Linked DNA regions of Homo sapiens. The protein of the gene in region 6 purifies or fractionates together with the protein of the main gene of each other region. This does not show direct contact. Each region holds a gene or a part of one and is shown on either strand. Other genes may lie near its edges. The genes, in order: MASTL, RABGAP1, SMS, NUP37, KCMF1, IMMP2L and DICER1.

Region 1 (3,500 bases), on a different chromosome or scaffold from region 6:
GTGCTGGGATTACAGCCATGTGCCACAGCACCAGGCCCCACAAGTCCAGTTTTGAGACCCAACATTTGAAAGATCAGTAGAATACTGAATAGCCAGATTGGCTGTCTGTCTGCTGCCTAGAGAAAGTCAGGATTAGAGACAGAGATTTGGGAATCATCAACATGGAGGTGACAAACTGACATCATGGGAGTGATGAGATGAACATGGAGCACGTGTAGGGCAAAAAGGGTAAAGGCAGAATCTCCAAGAACTATATTTAGAAGAGGTAAGGAAGGAACTGAAGAGCAGCAACAGAGGTCAGGGGAATGAGAAGAGACAATTGGATTTGACAATAAGGAAATCACTGGTGCCCATTAAGAAGTTTCAGTTAGGCCGGGCGCCATGGCTCACACCTGTAATCCCAGCACTTCAGAAGGCCAAGGCAGGCAGATCACCTGAGGTCGGGAGTTCGAGACCAGCCTGACCAACATGGAGAAACCCTATCTCTACTAAAAATACAAAATTAGCCGGGCATGGTGGCGCATGCCTGTAATCCCAGCTACTCGGGAGGCTGAGGCAGGAGAATATCTTGAACCCGGGAGACGGAGGTTGCAGTGAGCTGAGATCGTGCCACTGCACTCCAGCCTGGGCAACAAGAGCAAAACTCCATCTCTAAATAAATAAATAAATAAATAATAAATAAAAGAATTTTCAGTTAAATAGTGAGATGATAAGTTGCCAGAGCAAAATAATCAAACAAAGAGGAAACCTTTGAGAAGTTAGGCAATGTTGGGGAGACAAGGGTGGAAACTTATTTTCAGGCTGAGGATAAAAGCCGGCAAGGAAATACAAACAGAAGAAAGGGTGTGAGAGGTGGGGTGGGGAGGATGAAACAGATGATCATGAAAAGAGCTCAAAGAAAAGGGAAGTAACTAACATCAACATGTAGAAGAGGTTGATGTTATGGGTTGAACTGTGTCCCTCCCAAAAAAGCTATGTTTAAGTCCTAACCCGTACCTAAAAATGTGACCTTATTTGGAAATGGGTTTTTGCAACTATGATTAATTAGGTTAAGATTAGGTTAAGATGAGGTCATACTGGAGTAAGATGGGCTCCTAATGACTGGTGTCCTTCTCAGAAGCCAGCTCTATGATGATAGAGACACAGGGAGAACACCATCACAGAAAGAGGGAGAACTGGAATGAGGCATCTTCAAGTCAAGGAACACTGAGGATTGCCAGCAAGCCACCAGAAGCCAGGAAGAGGCAAAGAAGGATTTCCCTACAGGTTTCAGGGGTAGTATAGCCCTGTGGACACCTGATTTTGGAACTCTAGCTTCCAGAACTGTGAAACAATGAATTTTTATTGGTTTGAGACACCCAGTTTGTGCTACAGCATCCCTAGGAAGATGAATACAGTTCATTTCAGAATGCAGGAAGGGAACAGTTTTCAGAGAGAAAGGGAAGAAAAGAAGATAGGTGAAAATGTCATCTTTTTATTTTTATTTTTATTTTTTTTTAGACAGAGTCTTGCTCTGTTGCCCAGGCTCGAGTGTAGTGGCACGATCTTGGCTCACTGCAACCTCGGCCTCCCAGGTTCAAGCAATTCTCATGCCCCAGCCTCCCGAATAGCTGGAATTACAGGCATGCACCACCATGCCCAGCTAATTTTTGTGTTTTTAGTAGAGGTGAGGTTTCACCATGTTGGCCAGCTTGGTCTCGAACTCCTGGCCTCAAGTGATCCACCTGCCTTGGCCTCCCGAAGTGCTAGGATTACAGGCGTGAGCCACCGTAACCAGCCCTATCTTTCTATACTTATGTTCTGTTTTGAAGGATGATGGTTCATTTCTGGCTTGACTCTTCTGGTAAGGATATAACTGAGAATAAGTTCTAAACAGGAATAGGCTTCTGAAGACTGAACAGAAATTTAGACCCAACATTGTGGTCCTGAGCCCAAACTCCATCCAACCTGAAGAAACATTAAGAGGTAAGATAGGCCGGGTACGGTGGCTCACGCCTGTAATCCCAGCACTTTGGGAGGCCAAGGTGGGAGGATCACCTGAGGTCAGGAGTTAAAGACCAGTCTGGCTAACATGGTGAAACTGTCTCTACTAAAAATACAAAAATTAGGCGGGCATGATGGTGGATGCCTGTAATCCCAGCTACTCAGGAGGCTGAGGCCAGAGAATCACTTGAACCTGGGAGGCAGAGATTGCAGTGAGCCGAGATTGCACCATTGCACTCCAGCCTGGGTGACAAAAGAGAAACTCTGTCTCAAAAAATAAAAATAAAAATAAATAAAAAAATAAAAAAAGAGATAAGATAATATCAAGGGTGGCAGGTGGGGCTTCTCTGGAACATTGAGACTGAACCAGAAGGCAAAGGACAAATGACTACATGTACTCCAGCATCTGGTCTTTTACATTCAGAGAGTGGGACAGCCATGGCTACTGCTAGTTTATTTTCCTATGACAAATGCCATATATATACTAGATGAGTTCATTTTCTTTTACTTTAGGTAACGTAAGTACTGAAGAAATTTTTTAAAATTTAACCTTGAAAGATAATGTAGTGATAGATAACACTTCAAAAACTCAAGACATGCATGCCTTACCATGGGCCCTGCCTAGTAACAGCTCAGGTGCAAGGTAGTCTGGGGTTCCTAGAATTCGCCCATCATCAACGGGGGCCACCCCTCTTCTCACACTCTTCGGAGTTCGGTATGGAGTTCCCGACTTGATCTGATTTGGGGTCTGCTAATTCAAAAAGGGTTTAAGAGATAACAAATATCTTAATTCCTTTTACACCGAATAGAAAATGGTGAAACACACAAGCCAAATAACTAGCTCATAGGCTACTAGGCGTAAAGGATGTAGTCAAATTTTTGATAAGTTTTGAAAATGAATGCATAATTAGTTATAATTATGAAAAAGTCCTTTTATCTGGTGAAGTTCAAAAGCTTAGACAACACTGATTATTCCAATAAGATCTAGATAAGAAACAATAAAAAAAATCTGCAAGAAAAATGTTCAGTGAAAAAATCTGCAAGAAGACTGATAGCATGGACTAATACAAGCTTAAGAAGAGCCACTGAGGAAGGCTATGGCTAACAAATGATTAAGACAACACGTAAGACAGAACTACATATAACCTATTGTACTAAATAGCATTTAAAAATTTTTAGGATAATTTGTTATTTCACAACAAGTTTTTTTTTTTGAGATGGAGTTTCGCTCTTGTTGCCCAGGCTGGAGTGCAGTGGTGCGATCTCGGCTCACCACAACCTCCGCCTCCCAGGTTCAAGGAATTTTCCTGCCTCAGCCTCCCAAGTAGCTGGGATTACAGGCATACACCACCATGCCTGGCTAATTTTGTATTTTTAGTAGAGACGGGGTTTCTCCATGTTGGTCAGGCTGGTCTCGATCTCCCGACCTCAGGTGATCCTCCCACCTTGGCCTCCCAAAGATGGTGTGAGCCACCACGCCTGGCATTCACAACAACTTTGTAAGACCAGCAAGACAG
Region 2 (3,500 bases), on a different chromosome or scaffold from region 6:
GAGGAGACAGTGGGTTGAAGCCCATCCTTTGTTGGGGCAGGAGAATTTCTGTGTATCAGCATCTGAGCATAACAAAGAAGAGGGGGTAGAATTCCTGCAGAAGGAAAGCACACATCATATAATGCCTGGCTGTTTCCCTACTTGTCCTCTGCTGTCTCCCTCATAGAGCAAGCTTGGGAAGTCTTGTTCTGAGCCAGTGCTCCATAGTCATTGGAGACACAGACCTGCAGGCATGGGAAGAGCTCTGGGTGCTGTGCGCCTGGGAGCAGTCCCCTCCCCTGTCACACCACGGTCGTCCAGGAGGCAGGACTGGCTGGGGTGAGAGACTGCAAAGCCCTTTCTACAGAAACCATGAGATGCTGAAAACCCGCAGTCCTCTTATGAGCTCTTTGGTTTGTGTCTGGTCTGTCAGTGAAGGTCCACAGGTTGGCTTGTACTGGCAGGGAAGACCTTCAGCAGAAGCCTCAATCTGAAATGGGGTCTGACGTTTTTGGAAGTTTTAACTGTTCTCTCCCTCTCCTGCATCAGGAACAGGGGATTAGTGCTGCCAAGATTGAAGGAAGAAAGTAGCTGAATTAGAGGACTTCCAGGGTTTGGTTCAGCAGTTTTTGGGAAGCCTAGCACTAAGCGGTTGGTGGCAGAACTTCCTTTATTTTTCTGTTAACATAGTCCCTTTTGTTTTTTTATGTGTGCAGTTAAAAGAAATGTGCCGTCGGGAACTCGACAAGGCAGAATCTGAGATTAAAAAAAACAGTTCTATCATTGGTGACTATAAGCAGGTAGGTTCCAGTACCCTGGGATTGGGCTGTGTAATCTGGGAGCCCCTAGTCTGGATAAAATGTATACCCGCCCCCCACCCCCAAACCCAAATGCAAGCACCCTGGTTTCAGATCCTGGCTCTGCCCCTGCACTGACAAGTGGCTTCACTTATTCTCAGTTGTAAAAGAAGGAAAATCATCCCTGCCTAGGAAGGTTGTTACGAGGATTTAAAAAGACCATGTTTGTAGAGTGCCTGGCAGTGCCCAGCACATAGTAGGTACTTAAAACCACAGTATGTTTTGGTATGTATTTCAGATTCAGAATTACGAACTTTTGTTTACGTGTAGTTTTAAACCGGTTATTTCCCTGACTGGTTGAGTTTTAAGAACATAACAGAATGGTCTTGTTCCCTCCTACACTAGGATCTCTTGCTGGCTCATGAGTCTGGCAGGTGTTCAGAAACCATTGGCCATTGAGTGTGGTGCTGCTTGGTTTCTGCAAGTCCTAGGCCAGTGAATGCAGAGGCGGCATAGCTAGAAGAACCCCTGCTTATCCATCGACTTCATATCCCCTCCTGAGCGGTAGCAGGCTATTTGCTACTATGTTAATTCCAATTTACATATTCCAGCTTCCACTATGGAATTTATGCAGATGATTACAATTGCTCAAGAGATTGTTGTTTTATATTTGTTTCTTTAGATTTGTTCTCAGTTGAGTGAAAGATTGGAGAAGCAGCAGACAGCCAATAAGGTGGAAATTGAGAAAATTCGGGTAAGACTTCTCTTTACCTAAAAGATTTTATACCACCTACTTCATTTTATGGCTGTATAAACAGGTTTTGGGAGGAGGCAGTTGATTTCAAAAGTGAGAGAATCTAAGCAATAAGGCACCTGTCACAGGTCCTGGCTCAGTAGTTGACAACTAACACTACGCCTGTTTTCTCTGGAAGGGTGTACAGATGAAATCAAACAAGCTCTAGCTTTAGATCTCAAAGTGCAAGTGCCCCATGATTTCCAAATGTCTGTAAGGCAGTCGATGTCCGCAGTGTGATGCTGAGGAGAAGGAGTCATGCAAGTGATAGGTCTTGCTTGAGGTGGTGGGAGTGCAGAGGTCAGAATCATGTGCTGTGGCTTGTCACTTTCCAGTGTTGTTCTGAGTTCATGCCTTCTGCTGTAACACATCCAATTACAATGAGGACCTTAGTTTATTTTTATTTTTTTTTATTTTTAGAGACAGGGTCTCACTATGTTGCCCAGGCTGGCCTTGAAATCCTGGGCTCAAGCGAAATCCCTCCCTCAGCCTGAGCTGCTGGACTCCAGGTGGGCACCATTGCGCCCAGTTTAGAACTTTAATTGTTTAATGTTTTGTTGGCAGCTTAGGAGTTTTTATAACATGGTGCTTTCTTTCTTTAAGTTCTACCTGTATTACAGAACTTGTCAGATTTTACTAAGATAAGCAATTTACTGAAAAGTGCCTCACTAACATATTTACAGCTCAGAGGACAGGAACTTGGGAAAGTTCTGTGCTCATGGCTATGTTTGCGCAAAGCAACATTACCTAGAGCAGGATGACACTGGCCTTCGTCATAATTAATGTTTAACCAGATGTGTGTGTGTGTGTGTGTGTGTGTGTGTGTGTGTGTGTGTGTGTGTGTGTGTGTTTGAGACAGAGTCTTGCTCTGTCATCCAGGCTAGAGTGCAGTGGCGCCATCTCGGCTCACTGCAACCTCCGCCTCCCAGGTTCAAGCTATTCTCCTTCCTCGCCTCCCAGCTAGCTGGGATTACAGGCTTGTGCCACCGTGCCAGCTAATTTTTCGATTTTTAGTAGAGGTAGGGTTTCACCATCTTGGCCAGGCTGGTCTCGAACTCCTGAGCTCGTGATCCACCCGCCTTGGCCTCCCAAAGTGCTGGGATTACAGCTGTGAGCCACTGCGCCTGGCCAACCAGATCTGGTTTTTAAACAGAACTTATTTTCTGATTCTAAAACTTTAATATTCTTGCAGAAAATTTGGAAAAGAAGAGTAAATAAGGGAAAAAAGCCCTTATGATCCATTTTCCACATATAACATCTTTATTAATACTGTGGTGTGTATTCTTTCAGTCTTTGTTCAGTGTTTAACGTCTAAAATTTCATTCATTCTGAGATAAGCATTTCTTTTCACATTTACATCTCTGAAAGTCGGATGTTTTATAATTGGCTTTTTGTGGTTTAATTGGCAGAATGTTTTCTTAGAGGAACATAAAATGACATTTCTTACAGTTAATGGCATCTTATTTTGATGAAATGTGGAATACATTTTATTTGTAATCATAGTTTATGTACATTTTTGTGTTCTATTTCAACCAGCATGCATCCATTTTCCAATGTTATAAAAGTTCCTCAAAAACCTTTTAGAGGCTGTGTACTTCCTTGTATAAATATAGCACAGTATATTTAATATTTAATTGTTTTTGAATAGTTTATCCCCTGCTTTTTTGCCTGTCTCCAGTTCTACAGTGAAAATTTTTGTACATAAATTTTTATCTAGTTACAGCTTCATTTTTCAGCCTGGGTTCCTAGAAGTGAGATTACTGAATCAAGACAATGATAATTTTATTATTTTTGGTGTATAATACCAAGTGGCTTTTCCAGTAGGTTATCTGCCAGTTTACAAAGAGCACAGGTTTTCAGAAACTGTAGTGCTCAACAGAGAAGCCGTCTCTTGGTGTCCCCCAAAGGAGATGCTCACACCATCCTAAAGG
Region 3 (4,283 bases), on a different chromosome or scaffold from region 6:
TTCTGATCTATACACGTCTTTATCGTCAATCTTTTTACTTCCTCTTTGCACAACTAAATTAAGATGCCACTTCCACACCTTTCCAACTTCAAAAACGTCAGTTTCTCCTCCTCCCTCCCACACGATACATCCATGGTTCTCCTGGACAGTGTCAGCCCCAAGTGTTAAAATTCTCTCACTTTTTCTTCATTCGCTCTTTTCCCACTTTAACAAAACAACAAAAACATCCTATTGTGAACCAGCACTTCAAGAGACTAAATCTAAATTTGGCCAAGGAGGTTTAAGGACAAAGGGAAGTGCCAGAGTCTTTGGGCTCCATGCTGAGATCACCCTCCTTAAAGCATAAAAGAAAACCCATGGACACACCGGCACGGTGGCTCATGCCTGTAATCCCAGCCCTTTGGGAGGCTGAGGCAGGCGGATCGCTTGAGGCCAGGAGTTTGAGACCAGCCTGGCCAACGTGGTGAAACCCTGTCTCTACTTTAAACAACAACAAAAAAAATTAGCTGGGCGTGGTGGCTCGAGTCTGTAATCCCGGCTACTTGGTAGGCTGAGACACAAGAATTGTTTGAACCCAGGAGATGGAAGTTGCAGTGAGCCGAGATCGCACCACTGCACTCCAACCTGGGCGACAGAGTGAGACTCCATCTCAGAATTAAAAAAAAAAAAAAAAAAAAAAGTTAAGAAAATCCATGGACGATAAATACAGGTGAGTGTTCACAAGGTGCTCACAACAGGGACACTTCCCAGACTCACCCCTTACTAGCTGGGTGACCCTAATACACTATTTCTCCTCACCGCTAAATTCAGTATGCTAGAGCTTTCATTAACCATTCAGCCCTAAGGCTGGCAGGGTTATTAATGAAACCTTGGCTCTTCAGCTCCACCACTCAAGCACCATTTCATCTCTAGCAGTCTCCATGCCCTACCATCCTCACCTAAGAAATGTGGGAACTAAAATTAACATGCTTTGTTTTCTCTAAGTCACTTCAGACCACCTAAATACACTGACATTGCTTAAAAACCCTACAGTGTGCTCCACAGCTACCCCCTTAAGAGTAAAAGCCCGAAGAGGTGTACACTTTTTTTTTTCTTTTTAATGGACAGGGAAGGCTCAGAAAGGTTAACATAAACCCAAGGCCACACGCAGAGCCCATCAGGAAGAAGCCAGACTCAAACCCAGGTGTTGCTCCAAATCCTCAGTCTTCACTAGATCTTGTGCCTTCGGAGATCCTTTAAATTTGCGGGAGAAAATGCAAAGTGAGTACTCAGAAATTCAGAAAGAAAGGAACAGTGTTAAAAATGGTAAGAGAAAAGCCTGCTCTATCCAATTCGAGGAAAACAGTGGGAAAAGCAAGGTATGAGCGAGACACTCCAAGTGGAACCTATGGGAAGTGCAGATTCAAGTCTGCGGCAGTCACAGGTTTAAAAGCCACCAGAAAAAGAAAGGGCAGTTCTATCCTTCCCGCGACTCCCACCCCCCACGACAGAGGCACCCCGAGAAAAGAAGCCTGCAAATTATCCTTCCCCTTCAAATTTCCTGCACACAGTTCCGACTTTAGCAGGCCTCTCTCTTCTGGTCGGGTTTTTTTTTTTTTTTTTTTTTTTTTTTTTTTTTTTTTTTGAGACAGGGTCTTGCTCTGTCGCCCAGGCTGGAGTGCAATGGCGCGATCTTGGCTCACTGCAACCTCCGCCTCCCAGGTTCAAGCGATTGTCCTGCCTCAGCCTCCCGAGTAGCTGGGATTACAGGCGCGTGCCACCACGCCCGGCTAATTTTTGTATTTTTAGAAGAGACGGGGTTTCACCATGTTGGCTAGGCTGGTCTCGAACTCCTGACCTCGTGATCCGCCCGCCTCGGCCTCCCAAAGTGCTAGGATTACAGGCGTGAGCCACCGCGCCCGGCCGGCTGTCTTTTGATAGCTCCCCGATTCGGGGTGTAAACGATTCCCGCGCCCAGACCTCATGCCTCCCCACCCCCAATAATAATAATCGTTTCCTTTTCCCGTCCCCCAGTTCCTTTCCGGGGGATCCGTCTCCTACGCAGTCGGCTGAGAATTCTGCAAGCGCTGCGCGTCCGCAGACCTTTCCCCAGCCCCAGCTCCCTACGAGGGGAAACCCCCGCCCCCAAGAGGGAAATTTACCCGCCTGCAAGAACAGGAAAAGGTCGCGCGGGCAGCCCCGCTCGGCGCACGCCCCCAGCCCGGGCTCGCCGCGCGGGTCACGCCTCGCTCCGCCGCAGTCCCTGCAACCCTCGTCCCATGGGGGGTCCGCCCGCGCCCGGCAGCCCGGGGACTCCCCGAGCGGGAGCGCGAAGGCGGCGAGCCCGCGTGGGAGCGCGGGTGGACGGCCAGGGCCCGGAAGGGCGGCGCGGCCGGCGGGCACCCGGGACTGCCCCTGCAGGCCCCGAGCTGCGGCCGGGACGGAGCGCGGAGCCAGCAGGAGCGCGGCCTCCGCCCGACCGCCGGTGCACGCGGCCCCGCAGCGCGCTGTGCGTGGCAGTCCGGGAGAGTGCGGCGCCGCGCGGGCCGCCCGCATTGTTCGGCCCGCGGCGCACGCCACGCCCGACCCCCGCCCCAGCCCGCCAGGCGGCGGGAGCGGCGGGGATGGCCACGCAGGTGGCGGCGGGCGCCCTCACCTTTGGCGCCGAGCATGAAGTCGAGCGTGCTGTGCCGTGCTGCTGCCATAGTGAGGCGAGGCCCTGTGCCATGCCTGGGGGAGCAGCCGCGGGAGACTGGGGGGCCGCGCGGCGTGTCAGGCTGCGGCCGGCTGGGAGTGTGCTGCGCCCGGGGAGGCCAGGACTAGGAGGTGGGAGGGGCCGCCGGGAGCGACCCGGGGCGCGGGGGCGGGGCCGGTCCCGCTCCGGGAGGGAGGAAGCCGGGACGCCTCCAGCCCCGAACTTGGAGCGCCGGGTGTGAGGCCTCGCTAATGGTGGAAACGTGGGCGCCGTGCTCCCCGGCGTGCGTCACCAATGGCCGCGCCCTGCTCCAAGGCTCGCGCGGCCGCTCCCGCCATCCGTTAGGTCACCTTAGGTTTAAACAGCGCAGCAGGATTTCCGGGGGGCCCACCCCTTACGCCTCCCCACACACCTCTCCCCAAGCCAAGGCCCCTCTTATTTCCTGGCGGAGTCGGGAAAATCAAATGATGAGATCCACCCCTGTAGTCTAAGAGTACTGCCTGCCTTTTCTTACAATGCTGCAGTTAAACCCATTCGGATTATTACCATTATTAGCAAGGGTCTGCTTTGCATTTGAGGACTGAATAGAAAGCGCTTGGGCATTTACGTTATCCACAGTTTCACGCAAAATAAAATGAGGGAGAAGCCAGTAAGAGGACAGCATTGTTGTTAATATTGAATTAGGAAACTGCAGACTCCGGAGTTGCTTGTCTAGCAGGACTCCTCCATCACTGGCGCCTCTATTAATGGCAATAGCCTTTGCGGGGGGCTTATTTTTGACACTGGGGTTATGGCTGCTGTTCAACAAAATGATGGCAAAGGGGAGACAGCATGAGCGTCTGAACTAAAATTATTCTTTACTGCACTGACAATATCCCTGGGCAAATGCCTCCATCATCGTGTCAGGCTTTTGTGCCTCTCACGGCCACAGGAATTGCTGTAATGGTTAGACAAAATTTAAATCCATGAACTCATGTACCTCCACAAAAGCAACGAAGAACCTGGATATTAAACTCACCTCTTCCCCCAGGCAACGGCTGTTTTGCTGAGTTCTTCACCTTTCTACAAAAACTGGGCAGTGTCTTCACAAGTGTTCAACAAGGGTCTGTTGAACAGACCTTTCTCTGTTAAGAACTGAATCTTTTTCTAGTACCTGCATTAATTTTTGTCTACCCATGGCCACCTGTTTGTTATTCTGCATGTCTTACCATTCTTCTCTGTGTCCTAGATTCTCAATTTTGTTAGCTATTGCAATTCTCATCCTTCAGTTAGCTATGTCAGTCTGCAGCTCCTCTTTCTTCCTGGGATGTTCTTCACTTCTTGCCATTCCCCTGGAGTCAGGTCACTGACAATAGAGTTGTCTTTGTCCTGCATGTTGCAGGAGCAGTAGGGCTCCATGGGCCTCAGGTGTGCCTTTCCCCACTCAGCACCAGTGTGGGCCTCACATCAAAAGGGCCCTGCACTTGGTTTAATTCTCTGCTGTTGCCATCTTGAAATTCTTAACTCTCGAACAAGGGGCCCCGTGTTTTTATTTTGCCCTTGGCCTGCAAACTGCGTAGCTGGTTATGCTCTGCAGCTTGTGTCTGGCAGCACAGGTGGCCCTCGGGCT
Region 4 (3,500 bases), on a different chromosome or scaffold from region 6:
AAATTAAGTATCGTATCCTATGGATAATGACAAGCTTTTCTGAAGCGGGCTTTTTCTTTTTCTTTTTCTTTTTTTTTAAGAGACAGGGTCTTGCTCTGTCACCCAGGCTGGAGTGCAGAAGTGCTAACAAAACTCACTGTAGCCTCAAATTCCTGGGCTCAAGTGATCTTCCCACCTCAGCCTCCCTAGTAGCTGGGACTACAGGTGTGTACTACGATGCCCAGGTAAGTTTTAATTTTTTGTTTTTTGTAGGAATGGGGTCTTGCTATCTTGCCCAGGCAGGTCTCAAACTCCTGGCCTCAAGTGATCCTCCTGCCTTGGTCTCCTGAAGTGCTGGGATTATAGGTATGAGCCATAGCACCTAGACAGAAACAGGTTTCTTTTTGTATAAAACCAGTGATTTTAATAATCCTAAATTTGTTAATATGTCTTTACAATTAGACCGGGAATTCCAGGAAAATATTCCATAAATATTTTCTCATACTTTAAGTTTTATGAAGTGCTTATTTTGTGTCATTTCATTAAGTTCCAAAGTTACACAAGGTTGATACAATCCTTTTTTTCACAACCAAAGGGGTAATAGTGTGGTAGAAGAAACAAATAAGGCATCAAATATGACAGCCATTCTGCCCCTTTTCCATGCTAAGTGAAGCCTAACTTTGTTCAGGGCACAGTGTGTCCTACCCTAGGGGATGAGACATAATTAGTTTAAGGCAGTCATAGCAATCTCCCATAAAAGGAGAGGGTTCCTTCTTCTCCTCTTACTTTTTTTTTTTTGTTTAATTGTTCGGCAAATGGAGTACTTCTCTTATGCCTGGAACTCTCACAGCCATCTTGTAACTATGAAGCAACAAGTCCCAATCCTTGACACTGAGAATAGCAGAGGGAAAGGATGAAAAGGGTCTGAGCTCTTGATGACATTGATGAGCTGCTCAACAAGCCCTGAGACTACCTCCTCTAGACTTATAAGTACCATAGCTCATTGATTTTAAAATTGATGGATACTTGCTCATTGGTGTATATTTGTTCACACATCTCTGAAGTCAGGATGTATCTTAACGATCCATGGCATTCTTACATTTAGTCGAATGTATTTTATTCTTAATAATGGTATCCCTAAGTTCTACAACTTATTGGAATATAGCATATAATAAAATTTCACTGGTTTTAGTCTCTTATTTGGTTTTGCTGTTACTTAAAAAGCAGAAATAATGGCTTAAGGACCACACTATACAATGGAGTATTATGAAAAAGAACAAGGTAGACATGTATGTTAATTTAAGTGAAAAGCAAAAACATGTCGCAGAGATATACTATCTAGCATAGTTTCATTTAACACATAATAATAAAGTTTATATACATGAACATGGGCTCCCCTACATTTACATCCTTAACAGCACAGAACAATCAGGAAGCATAATATATTCCAAATTGTAGGGGTGGTAGTGGTGGAGTGGTTACATGTTTTTCTGTGTAAAGAAAATATTTGGAAAACAAATCAACTCCTTGTCTAGACCAAAAGACAAAGGCAATGACTTAGTCGGGAAAGTAAAATAACCACTTATAAAACAATAAGGGAAAAAAAAAATCCAGTGCAAAGAAGAGAACTACAAAAGTATCCCAGTGGTGGCACAGCAACGTCAAAAGATCAAATCACAGCTCCAACAAAAACGGTACATTACCTGAATAAGCAGGCTCGATCCATGTGAACAGGTCTCTTATTTTGAGGATAACTAAAAGATAATATTTTGCATTTTATGAATTATGTGTTAAACTCAAGTGGGTGAACTTAAGGTTTAAACAGTATTTTCTCTTTATAGGACAGAATGTCCAATGTGTTTAAACTATAATAAATCCTAAACAAGCAATCAGTTAAAACAGATGAAATACAATAAAGACATGACTTAGAACCACTGCAGGGAACCATCATGCAACAGGGTCAGTGTTTTTCTTATTTTCCAATATAAGTCAACATTGCACAGATCCAAGATTTCCTCTTTTGCACTGTCCTTTCTGGGTTACTCCCAGAGTAAATCTGCATAGCAAGTTTATGTTATATAAAAATCCATAGCTCTGGCCTTCTATAGGAAAGACTTGCTTTCGCTTGACAGCATAGTCTCAGGTATAACAGGATGGATGAGTGGATCATTTAGCAACAGTTACTGCCTTTTTTTGGTGTGTAATAGACAAACATATCAAGAAAGTACCTGGACCGAGTAATATCCCAAATTAACCAATCATTTCCTGCAACGGCTCCAACTTTGAAGGTGTTTTTTAAGCACCAGTGTGCTGACATTAATGGCACTTGTTCTGATTCAAGAGATAAAATAGCCTGTTGGGCCAAAAGATCATAAAACCGGATTGTTCCATTCTTCTCTGCAACCATTAGCTGTAAGACAGAAAAATAAAAAGAAACTCAATCACTTATCTCACTAACTATACCTGAAGTGTAAGCAGAGATTCACTGTTGTACGGTAAAATGTAAACATTTGCAATATACAGGTTCAGCATTCCTCATCTGAAAATCTGCAATGCTCCAAAAACTAAAACTTTTTGAGTGCTAACATGATACCACAAGTGAAAAATTCCACATATAAGCACTTAACACAAACTTTGTTTCATGCACAAAATTATTAAAAAAAGTTATATAAAATTATCATCAGGTCATGTGTATAAGGTATACATGAAACATAAATGAATTTCATGTTTAGACTTGGGTCCCATTCCCAAGGTATCTCATGTATATGCAAATATTACAAAATGCAAAAAATTCCAAAATCTGAAACCCTTCTAGTTCCAAGAATGTCAGATAAGGATCCTCAACCTATATTACAAATGGAAGATCAAATGTAAAGGAAGAGGCTATGTAAAAATCTCTAGAGAATATAAAAAACCTTAGAGAAAACTGGCAAGATAAACAATTCAAGATTTGGCCGGGTGTGGTGGCTCACGCTTGTAATCCCAGCACTTTGGGAGGCTGAGGCGGGCAGATCACTTGAGGTCAGGAGTTCGAGATCAGCCTGGCCAACATGGTGAAACCCCGTCTCTACTAAAAAAAAAAAAAAAATTAGCCGGTTGTGGTGGCATGCGCGTAATCCTAGCTACTCGGGAGGCTGAGGCAGAACTGCTTGAATCCGAGAGGCAGAGGTTGCAGTGAGCCAAGATTGTGCCACGGCACTCTAGCCGGGGCAACAAGAGCGAAATTCCTTCTTTAAAAAAAAAAAAAAGATTTTGAGATTTGGTAGAATTTTAAGTGATGATGTGCCGTCACTAAGAAGAAGAGATCAATTTAACAATTCCTTCTGGGAAAAGTTACTTTTAAGTTATGTTAGTTATATTGTCTAGAAAGAATAGCTAAGTATGTATCTCTCAAGAGAGACAGACATTTATGTGTTACACATACTTATGCAACTGAAGTTTGTTTCTAGAATGGAAGGCAGGGCAGCATAGTTAAAGAGCACAGACACGCCGCTTCCTTCACTTATAAGCTGAGTGACTGC
Region 5 (3,500 bases), on a different chromosome or scaffold from region 6:
AGGTATTTCTTCAAAGTAGATATACAAATGGCCCATAAGCACAAGAAAAGATGCTCAACATAATTTATATTTCAGAGAAATATAAATCAAAACCACCTGAGATACTACTTTACACCTACTAGGATGGCTGAAATAAAAAGGACAAAAAGTGTGGGCTAGGTAAGAAATTATAGCACGAAGCCAGGCGTGGTGGCTCATGTCTGTAATCTCAGCACTCTGGGAGGCCCGCAAGTGGATCACCTAAGATTAGGAGTTCAAGACCAGCCTGGCCAACATGGTGAAACCCTGTCTCTATTAAAAATACAAAAAAAATTTTCTGGGCATGGTGGCGGGCACCTGTAATCCCAGCTATTCAGGAGGCTGAGGCAGGAGAATCGCTTGAACCCAGGAGGTGGAGGTTGCAGTGAGCTGAGATGGCGCCATTGCACTCCAGCCTAGGCGACAAGAGTGAAACTCTTGTCTCAAAAAAAAAAAAAAAAAAAATTATAGCATGAAACATTTATATATTTTCTTACAATGTCTTCTAATCAACTGTAGAAACAATCTGCCTTTTTTTTTTTTTGAGATAGCGTCTTGCTTTGTTGGCCAGGCCGGAATGTAGTGGCACAATCAGGGTTCACTGCACACTTGACCTCCTGGGCTCAAGTGATCCTCCCATCTCAGCCTCCCAAGTAGCTAGGGCTACAGATGCATGTGCGCCACCACATCCAGCTAATTTATTGTATTTTTCGGGGGTGGATGCAGAGACAGGGTTTTTGCCATGTTGCCCAGGCTCATCTCAAACTCCTGGGCTCAAGTGATCTGACCATCTTAAGCCTCCCAAAGGGCTGGGATTACAGGCGTTAGCCACCATAACCAGCCAACAATCTGTTTTCTGGTCACTACAAAAGCTATTATTGCTGGGCATGGTGGCTCACGTCTGTAATCCCAGCACTTTGGGAGGCGAAGGCAGGTGGATAACTTGAGGTCAAGACCAGCCTGGCCAACATAGTGAAACTTCATCTCTACTAAAAATACAAAAAAATTAGCTGGGCAAGGTGGCACACACCTGTAGTCTCAGCTACTCAAGAGGCTGAGGCACGAGAATTGCTTGAAGCCAGGAGGCAGATGTTGCAGTGAGCCGAAATCCGGCCACTGCATTCCAGCGTGGGCGACAGAGTGAGACTCTGTCTTAAAAAAATAAAAAATAAAATAAAATAAAGCTATTATTTGTGTGTTAATAGCACGAACAAAAGACAGAGCATATTTCTTCTTTACTGAAGCACTCTTCTATTTCATTCCTTGTCAGTTGTGTATATTTCTGAATGGTTTTTTTAAACAAGTAAACTATGATTAAGATGAACAGACAGAATTACTTAGTACGTAAAAAGTAAGGCCGGGCGCGGTGGCTTACGCCTGTAATCCCAGCACTTTGGAGGCCGAGGCAGGTGTATCATTAGGTTAGGAGTTCAAGACCAGCCTGGTTAACATGGTGAAACCCTATCTCTACTAAAGATACAAAAAATCAGCCGGGCATGGTGGTGCACGCCTGTAATCCCAGCTCCTTGGGAGGCTGAGGCAGGAGAATCGCTTGAACCTGGGGGGTGGAGGTTGCAGCGAGCTGAGATCACGACATTGCACTCCAGCCTAGGCGACAGGGTAAGACTCCTCAAAAAAAAAAAAAAAAAAAAAAAAAAAGCCAGGCACAGTGGCTCACGCCTATAATCCCAGCACTTTGGGCGGCTGAGTCGGGCAGATTGACTGAGGTCAGGAGTTCGAGACCAGTCTGGCCAACGTGGTGAAACCCTGTCTCTACTAAAAATACAAAAAAATTAGCCAGGCGTGGTGGTGTGCACCTGTAATCCCAGCTACTCGGGTGGCTGAGGCAGGGGAATTGCTTGAACCAGGGAGGTGGAGGTTGCAGTGAGCCAAGATCGCGCCATTGCACTCCAGCCTGGGCAACAAGAGCGAAACTCCGTCTCAAAAAAAAGTAAGATTTATTTCATGTTTAATGAATTTGGGGCTTATGGTATGCTGCTGGGGAGTTTTAGAACACTTTGCCTTTACTTCTTCAACGTACATAAAATTCTAAATGATGTAATTCATTAAATTTTTAATTACTTACCAAAATCTACCCTTGTTAATATGCACTGCATTGGGTGGTCAGTTGTATGCCTTGTTGTTGTTGCACCACTTTCATAACAAGATGCACAAAGATCGTAATCGTAGCAAATTAAACACTTATATCTGCGACCTCGAAAATTTCCTTTTAAACATGCATCACAGCTGACACCTATAAAAAAAAGAAATATCTTTAGTTACCAGTTGTAAAGGCCACTCTTGATTTCATTTTTATGAATGTTTCAGGTGCTCATTTAACCTCATATGTCCTTTCCAAAATGACTAGAAATGACTTAGTAAAATGATACGGGAAGTTTTAGCCATGTGCTGGATTCATTACTCTGATTTATACTCCACATGAAAATAATTTAAAATGACTGATACAGGCTGGGTGCAGTGGCTCACGCCTGTAATCTGAGCACTTTGCGGGGGTCGAGGCGGGTGGATCACTTGAGGTCAGTAGTCCAAGACCAGCCTGGTCAACATGTTGAAACCCCGTCTCTACTAAAAATGCAAAAATTAGCTGGGCGTGGTGGCTGGCACCTGTAATCCCAACTACTTGGGAGGCTGAGGCATGAGAATTGCTTAAACCCAGGAGGTAGGGTTGCAGTGAGCTGAGATCGCGCCACTGCACTCCAGCCTCACAACAGAGTGAGGCTTTGTCTCAAAAAAAAAAAAAAAAAAAAAAAAAAAAGCCTTGATAAGCCAGCAAGAAGGTAAAAACCAAGACGAAGAGGAACTGGTGACTGGAAGCACTAAAGAAGGCTTTTCACCATGAGGGTATTTGCCCAAGCAGGTAAAAATCTAAGCTTAAGGTCCACAGCATTATTGGACAAAGGCCTAGTGAAGGTGGGATAATTAACAGAAGATTCCTCATAAAACCAAGACCCTAATATACTCTCAATGCATGGGTAGGCTAGAAATCCTCCCTAGGGGATTACAAAAATTACCCCAGTGAAAGCCCCCTGCCCTAGGGGCACAAAATAACACAAAAAGCCATAACCACAAACCAGTCCTCATGGGTTTATAGCCCAAATTCTATCAAATGGTTCCAAAGACCTTGGGTCAAGAATTTTAAGTGGTCTTAAATTAGAATTGATACCAAGCATCTGGCATATATAAACATCCAAAGAATAAGTTCATAATTTAAACCATAAAATACACACAAAAAAACAAAGCACCATCAGAAAGAACTAGCAGGAGCAGCAGAATCAGTCATGAGTTCATATCAGAATTGGGGCATCAAATAATTCTTGACCTGTTAAAAGAAATAACTGGGTGTGGTGGCTAACACCTATAATCCCAAGCACTTTGGCAAGGCGAGGCAGGGGGATGGCTTGAGGCCAGGAGTTCAAGACCAGCCTGGGCAACATAGAGAGATCCTGTCTACAAAAAAATTT
Region 6 (3,500 bases):
TCTCTATAAACTGTGGCCATTTCTCCCACTCACACAGCTCTCCTTCTTTGCTTCCTAGCAGCTATAAATTTGACTCGGTAGACTTATTTCTAGAATCCCTGAACCCTTGTAGTCATGACCCAAGTATGTGGTTCCAAGAAACTAAAAAAAAACCCATGCCTGAAAGAGAAATCCTACCATCTCTTTCTTCTCTGCCCCTGTGGTATCCACCTCCCCAGCTGGCCCTACTGCCTAGTCAGACAGAGTTTCTCCTTTATTCAGGGGTTCTCACTGCTGCAGCTTCCTCAGCCTCAGCAACTGCCATTAACGTTAGTGCTTCTCTATTGAAAGAGAGTCTGGCATCAAACATTAAAGAGGCTGAGCAGCATTCTGCAAAATAACTGGACAGTACCCTTCAAAAGTGTCAATGGCATAAAAGACAAAGATCAAGGAACTGGCATATACTGAAGGTGACTAAAGAGACATAAAAAATAAAAAATGAAAATATGGGATCTTGAGTAGGATCTTGGCCCAAAAAAAGGACATTAGTGGGAAAACAGGTGAAATCTGAATAAGGTCTAGACCTATTCGTCTAATAAGATTAGATCTAATAATATTCTACTGATGTCAATTTCCTGGTTTCAATACTTGAACTATGGTTCTATATAATGTTAATATTAGGGGATTTGTGGGAACTCTCTACACTATTTTTGCAACTTTTCTTCAAAACAAATAAAAGTAAAATTAAGTTAAAACACTTTTAAATGTGATTATTTAGGACTTTATTATGAAAGAACCTCTGTCCCGATGGACTTGTTAAGTGATATATTATTGTGAAATAGTGCAACTTATGTTAAGCCAGGAAGGCCATCACACAGGTTAACGAAAAGTCAATTCCAAGGTATAGAAAATTCACCTTACTCACCACTATGAGTTTGTAAATCACTAAGAGAGTATGATGCCACCTACATATACTATAGTGAGGACTTGATGACAGCAAATCATATTTTGTGCAACCAATAATGTTATTAAATAAATGTAGCTACTGAATAACATACTTAAACAATAACTCCACTGTGACCAACTTTTTACAGAAAGAAAGAGACAGTGAAAAATAAGAAAGATATGCAAAAAAATAATATGCACCCACCTCCCTCTGCCAGATCTCCCATGCTTTAGGAAACAACACTGGTCAACCAACTCTGAACAAAACCCCTTGCAATAGAAAGGACAGTCTGCTTTGCTATATATGTGTTTCTGTAACATGAATTAACATAGACAATTGGTAAGTGGAGAAAAGATTTCAGTGTAATGCAGAAGTTACATTGGTTCCTATGTAATTTTTTTCCCAGATGATTAATGTTTTGCCTTATTAGTACAGGCAACTGAAGGCTACGTATACTAATGGCAGCAAACCAGGAAGGAATCAGTATTATACATTCAGCCTTTCTCTGAGAAGTGCTACTGCAAAGTTAACCCTGATCTTTGTTTATAAATAACTAAATAAATAAAACAAAGTAACACAAAACAATGAGGAGAGCATACAACTCTGGTATCAGTACATTTTGTACAAAGCTTACAAGCTTTTCTCTATTTATGACTTGTAATGATAATGTCTTTCTGCCCTTGCATCCACAGACAGCCTCAACCCTTCCTTATACCACCTACCACCAAGCTATCTTCACCTTTTATGTTTTAAGTAAAACACTACTTTTACTGCAGTTTAATTATTAGAAACTTCATGTCTTTTAAACTGTGTTAGTATTTTTATTGACATTGTTATTGTTTTCATCAGTGCTCTGGTTATAAAGTTGAATAAGCCCTACTGATTTAAGTAAGAATTTGGAAACTGCAAATTTTCCAGAAAAGCACACATAATATTATAGTAGAAATGGTGTATTACCACACATTCTGAATACATTGTCTCAAGATTTTTTTAATATAAAAAGGTTATACTGGTTTGTTTTCAAAGATTACTTATTTATCAATGAAGTATACTGTTAATATCAATTTCTAAACAAAATTACGAAGTGTATTTTATCATCAGCTTTAAATCGAACATTTTAATATACACTTCTGTATGTGTCACACATTTCTTAAATAAATAGGATGTTCCAATGTAGTAACAAAAATTATCATCTATGTTAAAAACAAACTGATGCATTGTATAAGAAAAGCAAATATTCAATATTTGATATAAATTAAATGTATATTATGAACTGCAATCAAACCAACATCAATCTTCTAAAATGAAGCAGTTTCTAAATTGTATGAAAATACATGGATATGGTCTAGAAAGCATGTTTCATCATAAGACTAAAAAGATACTTTTTATTAGGCAGGGTCTCACTGTCACCCAGGCTGGAGTGCAGTGGCACAATCACAGATTACTGCAGTCTCGACCTCCCAGGCTCAATCGATCTTCCTACCTCAGCCTCCCAGGTAGCTAAGAACTACAGGCACGCATCACCAAACCCGGCTAATTTTTGTATTTTTTGTAGAGACAGGGTTTCACCGTGTTGCCCAGGCTGGTCTCAAACTCCTGGGCTTAAGGGATCCACACACCTTGCCCTCCCAAAGTGCCAGGATTACAGGCCTGAGCCACCTGGCCCTGACCTAAAAAAATACTTTAAATAATGCTAAAGAAGAATTTAGCATCAGATTTTTTGTTTCTTTCTCAAAGCAACAATATTGCTTCACGATCATCTGTTGTTAAATATATAATACTAGTAACTAAGCACTCTTTTATGTAAATGGCTCCTCCTAAGAACAAGCACATGAAAGTTTGTGTTATTTGTACATGACAAAGATATAGCACATAACTGAGTCATTAAAAACACAGTTCAGGCCGGGCGCAGTGGCTCACGCCTGTAATCCCAGCACTTTGGGAGGCCGAGGTGGATAGATTATGAGGTCAGGAGATCAAGACCATCGTGGCTAACACGGTGAAACCCGTCTCTACTAAAAATACAAAAAATTAGCTGGGCGTGGTGGTGGGCCCCTGTAGTCCCAACTACTCAGGAGGCTGAAGCAGGAGAATGGCCTGAACCCAGGAGGCGGGGCTTGCAGTGAGCCGAGATCCCGCCACTGCACTCCAGCCTGCGCAACAGAGCGAGACTCTGTTTCAAAAAAAAAAAAAAAAAAAAAAAAAAAACACAGTTCAACTGGAATAGCTATAATTTATATATCAATCCCAATTTGAATAGAATATTTTTGAAGTTAATGTATATAATAAATATCAATCACTATGAATATTTATATAAAATAGTAGTGTGCTCTTTTTAATATACTCCATGATATGGTAGGATACTTTTATGGACCCATGCAACCCTGAATATCAAGCAGCCCTGTTTTATTTTTCAATTATCTATTTAAGTCCACTTGGTTAGAGATAGTCAGCATGTTTCTCACGGGAAAAAAAAAATACTGCACAATTGTCTGCGTATAGTGTGACCTCTTTCACTTGGGTGGGTATCCTTTCCATCACCAACTAAGTGAGGATATAACCTTGTCAAACCAAA
Region 7 (3,500 bases), on a different chromosome or scaffold from region 6:
AAACCTGAATCTAATCATAAGGAAACATAAAACCTAACTTGAGGTTTATTTTACAAAACACTTGGCTTTATACACTGAATTGAAGTATGATTTCAAGGATGATGTGTTAATTCATGCATAGCAGATGAAGAATGTGTTATTTAGGGAAAGTTAAGAGACGTTTAAGGCACTGTTACATTTGGTATCACTACTACAGAGACCAACTAAGATAGCTGAACCAGTATAGATAATCCTCCTCGAAAACTTGTCTGTAAAATATTGTTCTCAAGCCCTCTTTTCCTTCATCCTCCATTATATTACTAGACCATACATTTCAATATTGATAATTTGGGGGCTCACAATATAATCTAATCACATTAAGACTATTGCATGTTAAAATTTTCTCTAATACACGTATTTAAAAGAAAAATATTACATTAATTTTATCAAATGCTAGTTATGTACCATGAGAGTTTAAGAAACTCCTTTTTTTTCTCAAAACCTCAAGAGGCAAACACCACTACGACAGTTTATAGACAAGGAAGCTGAGACTCAAGAGACGTTGCCATATGCCCAGTGCTCATCGGCTATAAAGTCGAAGAATCAGGATTTGAACCCTGGTCTCTCTGACGCCAAACACTTGCTCTTAAGCATCCCTACAAAGCTATGATAAAACATTAATATTTAACTCTGCAAAGTGGAAAGAACTTAAAATACCATGAATCAGAGCAACTGACAGTGATGGCTGGGCAGCAGGATGCATAAGAGGCGGACAGGCTGTGAGTTCATCATGTTAATCTCACCTCCCAGGATGTTACCAAAAGAGGAAAGACAGAAATCCTGCAATCTCGAAACATCTCAGAGGACTAAATACGACTAAATACGACTACTACCTTTCTTTTTCCCTTCAAACAGGGTCATTTAACTTCTTAATCAAAGAACCTTCCTACATCATGTCAAAGATCAGTTTTTAAACTAAGAGTCTTCTCTCATTATTCAAGTTCTCTAAGTACAACCGGTTTGTTTTCTTAAAATTCTGAACTGGTTAACAGACCTCATTTTCTAATCCTCAAGAATTGTTCAAATGTGTTGTTAAAACCCCTGCTTTATGGCATACATTGAGCTGTCAAAGAACGAACAAGCACAACAGAGTTAGTCTGTGCCAACAAGGAGAAAGTCTGCAATACAGTTAAACTCCAATTTTGACGGCGATTTTCTCCCACGATTCTTAACACTTCCCTCAGTCTGCAATGTTTCTGTGCACATAATCATACGTACCTCACAAAGCAAAAAGGACCAAGTAGCATGATTTGTCCAAAAGCAGAATAGTAATAATCTTTTTAAAAGCCTTAATATGCAAGCAATATTCTTCCCCACAAAACTGTGTTAGCTTCTAAATACTTCAAAAAGTATTATAAATTAACTTACTCACTCAACAAATCGGAGTGTCTCCTATATGTCAAGCACCATGTCTGGTAATGAACATGCATGAAGAATCTAATCCTTACTATTCCATAAACCTTAACACAACCAAGAACATGTAATGCTGTTATAAGCCTAAAAAACAAAAAGAAAAAACTCTAAGGCCAAACTTAAGCCTGTCATGTCTTACTTCTAGTAACAGTCTTACTGACATCCTCAGAGAATGTTTTGTAGCATCTTCTTAGTCACTTATTTAAAATGCATATTGAGGTAACTGCATGTTAAAGGAGTACCAACAATTCATTGACAATTTTAGATGAGGAAGCCATTTTGCACTCAGAATTATTTTAACAAAGGCTTTATTACATAACTGAAAATGTCAATTTCACCAGCTACATCTCAAAAATAATCTTTTTCTTTCTGTATTAATTCATCAAGTATACACCACGATACAACCAGTCTTACTTTTTAGACCAACACACGTTCCTAAAGACTGGGTGAGAGGGCTGGGCACGGTGGCTCACACCTGTAATCCCAGCACTTTGGGAGGCCGAGACGGGAGGATCACGAGGTCAGGAGATCAAGACCATCCTGGCTAAACACGGTGAAACCTCATCTCTACTAAAAATACAAAAAATTAGCAGGGTGTGGTGGCGGGCACCTGTAGTCCCAGCTACTCGGGAGGCTGAGGCAGGAGAATGGCATGAGCCCAGGAGGCGGAGCTTGCCGTGAGCTGAGATCGCACCACTGCACTCCAGCCTGGGCAACGTAGTGAGACTCCGTCTCAAAAAAAAAAAAAAGACTGGGTGAGAATTCCTATTTGGAAAATCCTCACTGCCCATGTTGTCCACAGAGCTTATTCCTGAATGGATTGTTATTTAGCATCTGTCAACAGCCTGAATGAGACAACTGATATTCGAGGGACACCACCCAAAAGAAATTAATGAATCAAACCACTGGAACAGTGAACACCTGTATTACTAAAGCTTTTCTATTATGCCTGAGGCTTTTATCCAGTTTCTCTAAAATGGCATGTGAAAAAATGTTTCTCTATCGTTTGTAAAATGTAAAACATTTTCTCCATATATTGCTAATGTTATTTAATGTAATAATCCAAAAGATTGATTATTCTTCATACAAGAGAAAAATCTGCTTCAAATTGGTATGCTTCCTTTCATTAATCAACGTGAGTTACATGCAGCACTCACCTTTCCTTGCCCCAATCATTCATCTAATTCTCTGCCTCCACATTCTATACTACCAACCTTTACCATTTTCATAGTACTCTAATACTTTCCTATTATAAGACCATTTCAAATCCTTTCTCAAAATAGACATCATAAACTATTAAATAAATGTACTAATACTAGAGTCTTAGCAGAAATTTGGAAGAAGTGAAAACTAGCCATCAAAAAATCAAAAGGTCCAAGCCCCACAGGCTAAGGAGGTGGAATACCAAGAAAATAATGCTGCCTCAGAAGACTAGTCATTTGGCAAGTCGTAAATTGCAAAGAAACCTGTGAATAAGAGCGAGTATAATACATACACTGGGCTTTCAGGATGAACTAAGCTCTTGAATGTCCAAAAAGCACAGCAAAAGGTAAACAAAATAAGTCACTTGGCTCCAACTTTCTCTTTATACAAATTAAAGACCTCACCAATATCTTCCTCTGGCATTCAATAAAGCACATCACTCCATGTTTGATCAGTTTTTTGAATACCTGCCAGACACTATGATTGGAACCAAGATCGTAAAAAGGAGTCGACCCTGGGCTTCAGAGAGATTACAGATTTTACTGACAGAGGAGTTGTTTGTAGGAAATTATCACTGCTTGGAGGAACCCTGAGAAAACTCATACTGCAATAAATTCTGAGTCTAGTCTAGTGTTTTGAAGATCAAGAAACAATGTGACCACTTTGAGGTATATGTCTAAAAGAAGGGAAAGCATGGACTCCAATGAATTATTTGTATACCTACGTTCACAGCACCATTATTCACAGTAGCCAAAAGATAGAAGCTACCCAAGTGGCCATGGACAGATGAATGGATAAACAAAATGCAGTATATTCATACAATGAAATACCATTCAGCTTTTCCA

Evidence for each region.
Region 1: the proteins of IMMP2L (region 6) and MASTL purify together in Homo sapiens (affinity purification with mass spectrometry; one large-scale study listed by BioGRID and IntAct). This does not show direct contact.
Region 2: the proteins of IMMP2L (region 6) and RABGAP1 purify together in Homo sapiens (affinity purification with mass spectrometry; one large-scale study listed by BioGRID and IntAct). This does not show direct contact.
Region 3: the proteins of IMMP2L (region 6) and SMS purify together in Homo sapiens (co-immunoprecipitation; one large-scale study listed by IntAct). This does not show direct contact.
Region 4: the proteins of IMMP2L (region 6) and NUP37 purify together in Homo sapiens (affinity purification with mass spectrometry; one large-scale study listed by BioGRID and IntAct). This does not show direct contact.
Region 5: the proteins of IMMP2L (region 6) and KCMF1 purify together in Homo sapiens (affinity purification with mass spectrometry; one large-scale study listed by BioGRID and IntAct). This does not show direct contact.
Region 7: the proteins of IMMP2L (region 6) and DICER1 purify together in Homo sapiens (affinity purification with mass spectrometry; one large-scale study listed by BioGRID and IntAct). This does not show direct contact.

The regions. Positions count from the first base shown.
Region 1 is NC_000010.11:27,172,352-27,175,851, reverse strand, and holds part of MASTL (serine/threonine-protein kinase greatwall), read right to left. Parts: intron 2,735-3,500; coding exon 2,593-2,734; intron 1-2,592. UniProt on the Homo sapiens protein: Serine/threonine kinase that plays a key role in M phase by acting as a regulator of mitosis entry and maintenance.
Region 2 is NC_000009.12:123,098,020-123,101,519, forward strand, and holds part of RABGAP1 (rab GTPase-activating protein 1), read left to right. Parts: intron 1-695; coding exon 696-779; intron 780-1,458; coding exon 1,459-1,530; intron 1,531-3,500. UniProt on the Homo sapiens protein: May act as a GTPase-activating protein of RAB6A. May play a role in microtubule nucleation by centrosome. May participate in a RAB6A-mediated pathway involved in the metaphase-anaphase transition.
Region 3 is NC_000023.11:21,939,226-21,943,508, reverse strand, and holds the start of SMS (spermine synthase), read right to left. Parts: upstream 2,801-4,283; 5' UTR 2,685-2,800; coding exon 2,636-2,684; intron 2,513-2,635; exon of another isoform or gene 2,142-2,512; intron 1-2,141. UniProt on the Homo sapiens protein: Catalyzes the production of spermine from spermidine and decarboxylated S-adenosylmethionine (dcSAM).
Region 4 is NC_000012.12:102,075,115-102,078,614, forward strand, and holds part of NUP37 (nucleoporin Nup37), read right to left. Parts: intron 2,390-3,500; coding exon 2,208-2,389; intron 1,734-2,207; coding exon 1,683-1,733; intron 1-1,682. UniProt on the Homo sapiens protein: Component of the Nup107-160 subcomplex of the nuclear pore complex (NPC). The Nup107-160 subcomplex is required for the assembly of a functional NPC.
Region 5 is NC_000002.12:85,026,661-85,030,160, reverse strand, and holds part of KCMF1 (E3 ubiquitin-protein ligase KCMF1), read right to left. Parts: intron 2,273-3,500; coding exon 2,105-2,272; intron 1-2,104. UniProt on the Homo sapiens protein: E3 ubiquitin-protein ligase which accepts ubiquitin from an E2 ubiquitin-conjugating enzyme and then transfers it to targeted substrates, promoting their degradation by the proteasome.
Region 6 is NC_000007.14:111,482,493-111,485,992, forward strand, and holds part of IMMP2L (mitochondrial inner membrane protease subunit 2), read right to left. Parts: intron 1,237-3,500; coding exon of another isoform or gene 1,155-1,236; exon of another isoform or gene 1-1,154. UniProt on the Homo sapiens protein: Catalyzes the removal of transit peptides required for the targeting of proteins from the mitochondrial matrix, across the inner membrane, into the inter-membrane space. Known to process the nuclear encoded protein DIABLO.
Region 7 is NC_000014.9:95,151,030-95,154,529, forward strand, and holds part of DICER1 (endoribonuclease Dicer), read right to left. Parts: intron 1-3,500. UniProt on the Homo sapiens protein: Double-stranded RNA (dsRNA) endoribonuclease playing a central role in short dsRNA-mediated post-transcriptional gene silencing.